Regions from separate parts of the Homo sapiens genome. Here region 1 is linked to region 2. Evidence: fine-mapped expression QTL. A gene starts in region 2. The other region holds a variant in brackets. All regions are shown on one strand. Distances are from middle to middle.

Region 1 (5,375 bases), 320 kb before region 2:
TTTGATCTCGCTATGTTGCCCAGCTTGGTCTTGAACTGCTGAGCTGAAGTGATCCTCCCACCTTGCCCTCCCAAAGTGCTAGGATTACAGGCATGAGCCACTGCACCCAGCCTTTTTATGACTTTTTCATCATCAGAAACAGCTCCAAGGAAGCAGATGTAGCTCTTTAGAGTGGCCAGGGTGACAACAGTTCCTGGCGTGCTATGGGTGACACGGGCAGGAAACACAACTTCTGCTTAAAAGACAGCCTCAGTGAGCAGGTGACTGAAGACAAGGCTCATAAGGGGCTTGGGATCCGTGACCCTGAAAGGCGGGAGGGTGATTAAAAGCAATCACATGTGGTGGGCGCCTGTAGTCCCAGCTACTCAGGAGGCTGAGGCAGGAGAATTGCTTGAACCCGGGAGGTAGAGATTGCGGTGAGCGGAGATCATGCCATTGCACTCTAGCCTGGGCAACAAGAGCAAAACTCCGTCTCAAAAAAAAGCAGTCACAATGTGGGAATGGCATCCCCCAGCCTGGGACTGCCCTGAGCCTGTGGCTCAGGACATCAGCATTTGATGCCACTCTTCCAGGTTCATAGACATGCTGTGAGCAGAAAAGTCCAGACTCTTGGTGTCGGCCCAGACTGCAGAAGCCAAAGAGTGGTGGTGCCCTTTCTGGCTGCTGTGATGACAGCCAAGGTTTCCTCCTCCTCTTCGCACAGTGGGTAGGTCCCTGCTGGGGCTAACAGGTTTCTGGATTTTTATTGATTGCCCAGCACTGGCTGGTGAGAAACAGTACCTGTGCTGAAATTGCCAATTTACCAGTCTCCTTTCCCCAAATGGCAGTGCTGAGACTAAAGGCTGGCTCTGAAATATTGACAGCCTCACTTCCTGCCTGCCAATTCAGTTTTGTCATGTAATAAAAAGGGAATACAACCTCACAGGATTACTGTGAAGATTAAATGAGAAAATGCAGACAAAGGCTCAGCAGAATACTTGGCATGCCGTAGTTGCTCAGAAATTCCCTTCTTGCTTTGTCCTTCAAGGCTTAACATAAATATTGTCTTTTTTTTTTTTTTTTTTTTTGGAGACACGATCTCACTCTGTGATCTAGGCTGTAGTACAGTGGTACCATCATAGCTCACTGCAGCCTTGACCTCCTGGGCTCAAACGATCCTCCCACCTCAGCCTCTGGAATAGCTGGGACTACAGGCATTCGCCACCACACCTGGCTGATTTTTAGATTTTTTTTGTAGAGCCAGGGATCTCACTATGCTGCCCAGGCTGATCTTGAACTCCTGGCCTCAAGTGATCCTTCAGCCTCAGTCTCCCAAGTCTTTGGGATTATAGGCATGAACAGTGGTTCATGACATGGCCTCACAAATATCATCTGACACATTAAATTCCTTTAACACCTCACCTCACCTAGACCCCAAATCAGCCCTTTTCGGGAATCCCAAGACCTTTTGCCCATTCTTTTGTTTTTTTGTTTTGTTCTTTTGTTTTTGTTTTCGCTCTTGTTACCCAGGCAGGAGTGCAATGGTGCGATCTCCGGTTCACTGCAACCTCCGCCACCTGGGTTCAAGCAGTTCTCCTGCCTCAGCCTCCCGAGCAGCTAGGATTACAGGCCACCATACCCAGCTAATTTTGTATTTTTAGTAGAGACGGGGTTTCTCCATGTTGGTCAGGGTGGTCTCGAACACCCAACCTCAGGTGATCCACCCACCTCGGCCTCCCAAAGTGCTGGGATTACAGGTGTGAGCCATCGTGCCCAGCCGTGAGCCACAGAGCCCGGCGGTTTTTTGTTTGTTTGTTTGTTTTGAGAGGTAGTATCACTCTGTCACCCAGGATGGAGTGCAGTGGTGAGATCTCGGTTCACTGCCACTCCCACCTCCCGGGTTCAAGCAATTCTCCTGCCTCAGCCTGCTGAGTAGCTGGGACTACAGGCGTGTGCCACCATGCCTGGCTAATTTTTGTATTTTTAGTAGAGATGGGGTTTCACCATGTTGGCCAGGCTGGTCTCGAACTCCTGAACTCAGGTGATCCACCCGCCTTAGCTTCCCAGAGTGCTGGGATTACAAGCGTGAGCCACCACACCCACCCTTGCCCATTCTTTACAGGGGCCCATGCAGATACACAGGGATAAAGGAACCCACAGTGTGATGAGTATGAAGAGGCTGTGAGCTGATTCCTTAATGGTTCAAAATCCTGGGAGCTGAATTTAACATTTCTTTCTTTCTTTTTTTTTTTTTTTTTTTGAGACAGAGTCTCGCTCTTGTTGCCCAGGCTGGAGTGCAATGGCACCATCTCAGCTCACCGCAACCTCCGCCTCCCAGGTTCAAGCCATTCTCCTGCCTTAGCCTCCCAAGTAGCTGGGATTACAGGTGCTAGCCATCATGCCCAGCTAATTTTTTGTATTTTTAGTAAAGACAGGGTTTCACCATGTTGCCCAGGCTGGTCTTGAACTCTTGACCTAAAGTGATCTGCCTGCCTCGGCCTCCCAAAGTGTTAGGATTACAGGTGTGAGCCACCACACCTGGCCAAACTTAACATTTCTAAGCAACAGATCATTTTTTTTTTTTCTTTTTTCTTTTTTTTTTTTTGAGATGGAGTCTAGCTCTGTCACCCAGGCTGGAGAGCAGTGGCCCGATCTTGGCTCACTGCAAGCTCTGCCTCTCGGGTTCACACCATTCTCCTGCCTGAGCCTCCTGAGTAGCTGGGACCACAGGCGCTCACCACCACGCCTGGCTAATTTTTTGTATTTTTAGTAGAAATGGGGTTT[C/T]ACCGTGGTAGCCAGGATGGTCTTGATCGCCTGACTTCATGATCCGCCCACCTCTGCCTCCCAAGCAGATGGGATGACAGGTGCATGCCACCACACCCGGCTAGTTTTTGTATTTTTTGTAGAAATAGGGCTTCACCATGTTGCTCACGTTGGTCTTGAACTCCTGGGCTCAAGTGCCTTGACCTCCCAAAGTGCTAGGATTACAGGTGTGAAATAATTCCTTAATATCATCAAATATTCAGTGTTCAAATATTCCCACTGTCTCATCATCATCATCATCATTCTATTTATAGTTTGTTTGAATCATGACCTGAAAAAGATCCATAGGCCAGGTGCAGTGGCTCATGCCTGTAATCCCAGAACTTTGGGTGGCCGAGGCGGGCGGATCACCTGAGGTCGGGAGTTCGAGACCAGCCTGACCAACATGGAGAAACCCCATCTCTACTAAAAATACAAAATTAGCCGGGCGTGGTGGCGGATGCCTGTAATCCCAGCTACTTGGGAAGCTGAGGCAAGAGAATCTCTTGAACCCAGGAGGCAGAGGTTGCAGTGAGCCGAGATCGTGCCATTTCACTCCAGCCTGGGCAACAAGAGCGAAACTCCATTTCAAAAAATAAAAAATAAAAAAGATCCATAAGTTTTGGTTGGTTAATGTGTCTCTTAAGTTTCCTTTAATCACTAGGTTCCCTCTTCTAAAATCTTTCTGTTTTCCTTGCAATTTATTAAAGAATATTTGTCATGTGTTCCTATACAGTTTCCTAAAATCTGGATTTAAGGCCGGGTGCGCTGGCTCATTCCTGTAATCCCAGCACTTTGGGAGGCCGAGGTGGGCGGATCACCCGAGGTCAGGGGTTCCAGACCAGCCTGGCTAACATGGTGAAACCCCATCTCTACTAAAAATACAAAAAATTAGCCAGGCTTGGTGGTGGATGCCTGTAATCCCAGCTACTTGGGAGGCTGAGGCAAGAGAATCATTTGAACCCGGGAGGCGGAGGTTGCAGTGAGCCGAGATGGCGCCACTGCACTCTAGTCTGGGCAATGAGTGAAACTCCATCTCAGAAAACAAACAAACAAATAGAAAAAAACAAATAAAATCTGGGTTTTACTGATTGTGTCCTCATGGTATCATTTAACATTCTTATTTTCTTTATTTCGTGTAAAGCAGTAGTCGGATCTAGCAGCTTGATCACCTTTGGGGTTGATTTTGTTCCTAGACTCTTTCATATGCAGTATTGGGTACTTCCATTAAGAGGTACATCATTCTGATTTTTCTTTGTTTCCTAGTTTTTCTTTCTTTTTTTGTTTTCTCTGTTTTGTTTTGAGACAGGGTCTCACTCTGTTACTCAGGCTGGAGTGCTGTGGCAGGAACATAGTTCACTGCAGCCTCGACCCCCCGGGGTTCAAGCAATTCTCTAGCCTCAGTCCCCCAAGTAGCTGGGACTATAGGCACTTGCCACCACACCTGGCTAAATGTTGTCTTTTTTGTAGAGATGGAGTTCTCCATGTTGCCCAGGCTGGGATAGTCTCTAATAGGGTTTATAGTGGACCTTTTTAATATTATCATCACCCAGCATCTTTTTTTTTTTTTTTTTTTTGAGACAGTTTCTGTCTGTTGCCCAGGCTGGTGTGCAGTAGTCCGATCTCGGCTCACTGCAACCTCCGCCTCCTGGGTTCAAGGGATTCTCTTGCCTCAGCCTCCCGAGTAACTGGGATTACAGGTGTGTGCCACCACGCCCAGCTAATTTTTGTATTTTTAGTAGAGATGGGTTTTCACCACATTGGCCAGGCTGGTCTCAAACTCCTGGCCTCAAGTGATCAGCCCGCCTCTGCCTCCCAAAGTGCTGGGATTACAGGTGTGAGACACCGCGCCTGGCCATTCAGAATCTTTTTGAAAACCCATTCTATGTCAAGACATGATGAGTTCTGCCTCCCCAAGGTAGAAGCTAGACTCCTGTACCTAGCTTCCCTAGCACTCAGGCATACAGTGTAGGCTCATCCAATCAGATGCAGCTGATATCCATTCAGAGGTGAGCTGTACGAGGATGAGAATGCTGTAGAGACACGGAGATTTTTTTGTTTGTTTATTTTGTTTGTTTTCAGACAGAGTCTCTATCACCCAGGCTAGAGTGCAGTGGCACGATCTCGGCTCACTGCAACCTCCGCCTCCTGGGTCCATGCGATTCTCCTACCTCAGCCTCCCAAGTAGCTGGGACTACAGGTGCCCACCAGCACGCCTGGCTAATTTTTTGTATTTTTAGTAGAGACGGAGTTTCACTGTGTTAGGCAGGACGGTCTGAATTTCCTGATCTTGTGATCCACCTGCCTCGGCCTCCCAAAGTGCTGGGATTACCGGCGTGAGGCACCGTGCCTGGCTGACACAGAGCTTTTGAGGGCAGTGGGAGTGGAGGCCCCAGGAGTAGAGATACTCCTTCCACTTTTGAGCTGCAGTGGCTATTGATGGCAAAAAGCAGAGGCTGTGCTGATAACAGTCCAGGAGCAAAATTTGGGTATTGTTCCTGGCCAAGTAGCCTCCAAGCCCAATTCTCTATCCCTCTCAGAGACTGTGTGAGTCATTTATATCTTTAAATACATTCCTTGGCTGCTTAAACTAG
Region 2 (5,317 bases):
GACTTCAGACATGTAAGAAAAATAAGCAAGACGTTAAGTTCATGTAGTTGACTTTGAGGGAGGAGAGGAAGTCCTGAAAGAGATGATGAAAGAAATCACACATTTATAGGCGGGATAGGTAATATTTCACAAATACTTATAAAAAAAATTTCTGGGGGGCAAGGCATGGTGGCCCGTGCCTGTAATTCCAGCACTTTGGGAAGCCAAGGCAAGTGAATCGCCTGAACTCGGGACTTTGAGACCAGCCTGGGCAACATGGCAAAACCCCGTCTCTACCAAAAATACAAAAATTAGCCGGGCATGGTGGCGCATGCCTGTGGTCCCAGCTACTCTGGAGGCTGAGGTGGGAGGATCCCTTGAGGCTGGGAAATGGAGGTTGCAGTGAGCCAAGATCATGCCACTGCACTCCAACCTGGGTGACAGAGTAAGACCTTGTCTCAAAAATAATAATAATTCTGGGACTATTGTGAGATAAAGAAAACAGAAAAACCCCACTGTAATATAACTGACTGATGAAAACCACATAAATTAGAAGAGGGGAATTTAGAGACAAGAGAAAATACATAATCAGCTCCAGCCTCTGATATTGGGCTGAGATAGCAGAGATATAGTTTTGTCACCCTCAATTATGCAGAGTAATGTTAAAGACAAACAGATAGGGTTATCTGTGATAAATCTGGGGCTAAGGTTATTGACCCACCCAGCAAATTGTGACAACCATCTTCCTGGAAGGTAGCATAGAGCTAGGAAGGTCCCAGGAATGAAGGGTGGACACAGAAGATCTCGTGTTTATGGGTCTTGAAGGATGGGTAGAATTTGGGGGAGGTTTAGTGGGAGAGAAGGGAAGATAGGAGATTGTTATAAGGAGCAGCTATTATGGGCTAGAAATATGCCTTCTTAGAATCAGTGCCTTCACCCGGACAAGATGGTGGGGGTTCAAGCTAGAATGGGAGCAATGAGAAAGATGGAAAAGAGTGGACAGATCTGAAAACTACTCAAAGGATAAAATCAACAGGACTTGACAGATTGCTTATGGAGGTGTATGAAGAAGAGTTTAGAATTACTTGAGTGTCTAGCTTGCAGAACTGAATGGTTATCAGATTCCATTCTTATAGAAGTCCAAAGGCTCCTAACCCGGCCTAAAACGCTCTGCATGACCCGACCACTGCCTACCCATCTCACCAGTCTCATCTGTACCCACTCTCTTCCCCTCCACATCTGAGCCCCAGGAACGATGCCCTTCTTTCCAGTTCCTTCCTACCACAGGGTCTTCCCACATGAGCTCTCCTCTGACTGAACAGCCCCTCCCATATTTTTTCCCTACCCAACCCCTATTCATCCTTAGGGTCTCAGCTTAAACGCCGGTTTCTTTGGAAAAATCTCTGCCAGTCTTCAGATAAGGTTAGAGACCCCTGATATTCAATTCTCATCTTGTTTCGCAGCATTTTGTGTATCGCCACCACGTCTGTAACCGGAGCGCCTAGTACAGTATCTGACCCTCAATAAGAGCTCGGTAAATGTTTATTGTTGAATGCGTCATTCAGTCAGTCGAAACAATCCCCGAAACAGATATTGCCAGAGGAAAAAGAGACTTTTAGATTATACAACTAGTGAGTGACCGGGCCTGGAACCTAATCGATTCCTGTGTGCCGACCAATAGCCTAACAACAGAAAAATAAGGCCCATTTTTCCCCTGGAGAAACTCATGGCCGATAAAGGAGAAATACGTGCATCCCGTCCGGACTGATACCTGGATCCCCTTTCTGCCCGCAGCTCTCCTTCCTTCAACCTCCCTATCGCACTTGCACTGCACCGTAATCCCGGCGCACAGGTGCCGCGCCATCCTCCCCACAGGGCCGCGGGCACGCGGGCCACGGACTCACCTGGGCCCCGCCCACCGACCCATGCAGCCGCAATAGGCACATGAGCCCGGGCAAATGTGGGGCCGAGCGGTTTGGGGGATGCACCGGAGCAACGGCAGACCCCGTTCGAGGTTGCAGCAAACCAGAAACACTCTCCAGCAGCAGCAGGCGGAGCCGCGGGCCCGAGCTCACTGCCGAGAGACCCCCGGTCCCGCCAGGAACCCCAGCCGCGGAGCCCGCAGAGGGCCCACTCAGAACGGCTGCCGCCATCTTCCCCCGGGTTCCAGTGGTGGCGTGGCGCGATGACGCAAACACACCGCGACGGCCGCCTACTGGGGAGGGGGCGTGGGGAGGGGGCTGCGGTCTTGCGCACTGAGTGAAGGCAGGCTGGACTCGCGGGCTCAAGCTGGGAAGGAGCATGCGCGGAGAGAGCAGCCTGGGCGCCGAGGCAGCGGGGTGCTCGGTTCCCGGAGTGATGGCGGATGAGGCTGCCTGTGAGCGTGTCCGAGGCGGTCCTGTGATGTTAAAGGTACACGTGGTCCGGACAAAAGGCGCCAAAGTCGGAACGATTTCCATTTAGCGGACGGAGTCTTGGGACATCTTCGCTGTAGGAATCAATAACTCTCATTTTTTTTTTTTGAGACGGAGTCTCGCTCTGTGGCCCAGGCTGGAGTGCAGTGGCGCGATCTCGGCTCACCGCAACCTCCACCTTCCAGGTTCAAGCGATTTCCCTGCCTCAGCCTCCCGAGTAGATGGGATTACAGTCGCGCGCCACCACGCCCGGCTAATTTTTTTTGTATTTTTGTAGAGATGGGGTTTCACCATGTTGGCCAGGATGGTCTTGAACTCCTGACCTCAGGTGTTCCGCCCGCCTTGGCCTCCCAAAGTGCTGAGATTACAGGCATGAGCCACCGCACCCTGCCTAGGAATCAGTAACGTGTGTGTGTGTGTACGCGCGCCAAAGATTTATTTCTTCATTTCTTGCATTTCAAGTACTCTTCGATGTCATCCTTGGCCTGAGACTCCTTGCCATAGTCCTTAACTACTACACAACTGCAACCAACCACTTTACGGGGTTTCCCCTCTCTGTCGATTTTTACAGAGCCCTACCCATTCTCCTAGTTTCTTGTTGTCATCAACCTTAATTAGGTTGATTTGGTGTTCAGCACAAAGGCCTCCACCAACTTGACATACATAGTAGGCTCATCATAGTTGGATGCAAGCACACAAAGATGGGCTTGGCGTTTGTCTAAGGCTTTGGCAGCTTCGCGAATTCCACGTGCTAGGTCATGGTGGATGAGAGCGGTCTTCAGCACCTCTTGTGAAGCAGTATTAACATCCATTACCCCTCCAGCAGCAATGCCTTCCTCGGCCGTGGCGGTGGGTTACAAGTGAAGCTGAATCTTGAAGGTACCCAAGCCTCCGCCTCCGCGCAACTCGGCAGCGGCAGGGAAAGAGAAGGAATCAATAACTCTCTAGGTAACTTGAAATCACAGACATTTTTAACTACATTTGCAACTTCAGAAATGATACAAGACGTGCGCCTTGCAAAAGCCAATTCAAACAGTACAGAAAGGCATAAAGTAAAAAGAAAAACTGCTCCTCCCCCGCAAAGCCCTGCCCCAGTAGCGTGTATACTTTCCTAATATTAGTCTATGCACAAGCACATAAATGAATATTTTACAAGATTGGGGTCTGCGTGTGGCTTGTTTTCACTCATGGCCTTCTTTATGCTGTTTTTTAAACTGTGGTATGAATGAAATGGGTGCACCATGATTTAATAATTCTATTGCTGAATTAATGCTTAAAGGCTGCTCCAGCTTTTTGCTAATGCAAACTGTAGTGAACACGCTAATACCTCTATGTTTATGTTTGTGTACTTTTGTGATTGTTAGATTCAAATCCAAGAGTCATCATTTTTCTTTTTTTGAGGAGTCTCTCTGTCGCCCAGGCTAGAGTGCAATGGCACGATCTCGGCTCACTGCAACCTCCGCCTCCCAAGTTCAAGTGATTCTCCTACCTCAGCCTCCCAAGTAGCTGGAAGTACAGGCACCCACCACCATGCCCAGCTAATTTTTGTATTTTTAGTAGAGACGGGGCTTCACCATGTTGGCCAGGCTGGTCTCAAACTCCTGACCTCAAGTGATCTGCCGGCCTCAGCCTCCCAAAGTCCTGGGATTACAGGTGTGAGCCACCCCACCTGGCCCGTTTTTCCTCTTATTGCCTCCTATCCAATCCTTCAAGTCCTGGCATTCAAGGCCTCCAAAATACATTAACCCAATAGCGTTAATTTTTCTCCATCTCCACTGCCGCTCCGGTCCAAATTACCATTCACTCTCACCTAGTCTATTACAAAGCCTTCGTTGCTCTCTGCTTCCCTCTTAGCACCCTGTAGTCCCTTCACACAGCAACCAAAGTGGTCTTTTCAAATGTAAACAAGTTGTTGTCACTCCTAGCTTCAACCCCTCTGTGGCTTCCAAATGTGATGAGAATGAAATCCCATCTCGTCACTGAGGCCTAAAAGAATCCACCCAATCTGACTCATACCCACCTCCCTGACCTCAACACATACCACAAGTACCCTTTTCCTTCTCTCTTCCTATTCTTGAGCCACGCTAGCCTTCTATTTTCCAGCAAAGCCCATTCTCACATCCGAACCTTTGCACATGTTGCTGATTATGCTGGAGAAACTGTCCTTTGATTCTATGTAACTAACGCCATTTTGCCATCCTGAGACGACTTCTTTTTCGGTAGCTCCCACTCCAACCCCCATCAGCCTCCATCACATTTGCCTGTTTATAATTCATGTCATTACCAGAAATTTGCTTTCTTATTAACTATCTCTTGTCTAAAATACAAACTCCATGAAAGGGCTCCTGTCTCCTACACTATGCTATTCCTATCACCTAGAACAGTGCCTGGTACATAAAAGGTGCTGAAAAAATATTTCCCCAGGCTGGAGTGCAGTGGCATGATCACAGCTCACTGCAGCCTTGACCTCCCAGCTCAAACGATCCTCCCACCTCAGCCTCCCTAGTACATGAGACTCTAGGCACTAGCCACTATATTTGGCTCATTTTTCGTTTTTCGGAGGTTTTTTGTTTTCTTTTTTCCTCGAGATGGAGTTTCGCACTGTCACCCAGGCTGGAGTGCAGTGGCGCGATCTTGGCTCACTGCAAGCTCTGCCTCCCAGGTTCAGGCCATTCTCCTGCCTCAGCCTCCCAAGTAGCTGGGACTACAGGCGCCTGCCACCATGCCGGCTAATTTTTTGTACTTTTTTGTGGAGACAGGGTTTCACCACGTTAGCCAGGATGGTCTTGATCTCCTGACCTCGTGATCCGCCCACCTCAGCCTCCCAAAGTGCTGGGATTACAGGCGTGAGCCACCACGCGCGGCCCGTTTGTTTTTGAGACGAAGTTTCACTATTCTCACTCAGGCTGGAGTATAACGGCACG

Direction of the effects. Positions count from the first base shown, and alleles are read on the strand shown. Sizes are in standard deviations (SD) of each study's normalised expression.
For the expression in whole blood of the gene that starts at base 2,158 in region 2, allele C in region 1 goes with a lower level than allele T (moderate effect, 0.42 SD a copy in TwinsUK).

What was found. PIP is the estimated chance that this variant, and not a neighbour inherited with it, causes the effect.
Region 1: its variant is fine-mapped to the expression of PELP1 in whole blood (TwinsUK, PIP 0.95).

The regions. Positions count from the first base shown.
Region 1 is chr17:4,381,253-4,386,627 of GRCh38, forward strand. No RefSeq gene overlaps it. Among named protein-coding and RNA genes, the nearest start is that of UBE2G1, 17 kb to the left of the region's middle. RefSeq lists an enhancer at 1,532-2,031. The variant C/T (reference allele first, on the strand shown) is at 2,764.
Region 2 is chr17:4,701,980-4,707,296 of GRCh38, forward strand. It overlaps PELP1 (proline, glutamate and leucine rich protein 1), which reads right to left and starts at 2,158. Exons shown (of 17, transcript NM_014389.3): 1 at 1,884-2,158. The coding sequence starts at 2,132. PELP1-DT (PELP1 divergent transcript) reads left to right here and starts at 2,251. Exons shown (of 2, transcript NR_103482.1): 1 at 2,251-2,391; 2 at 3,220-3,550. It also overlaps the pseudogene RPS12P29.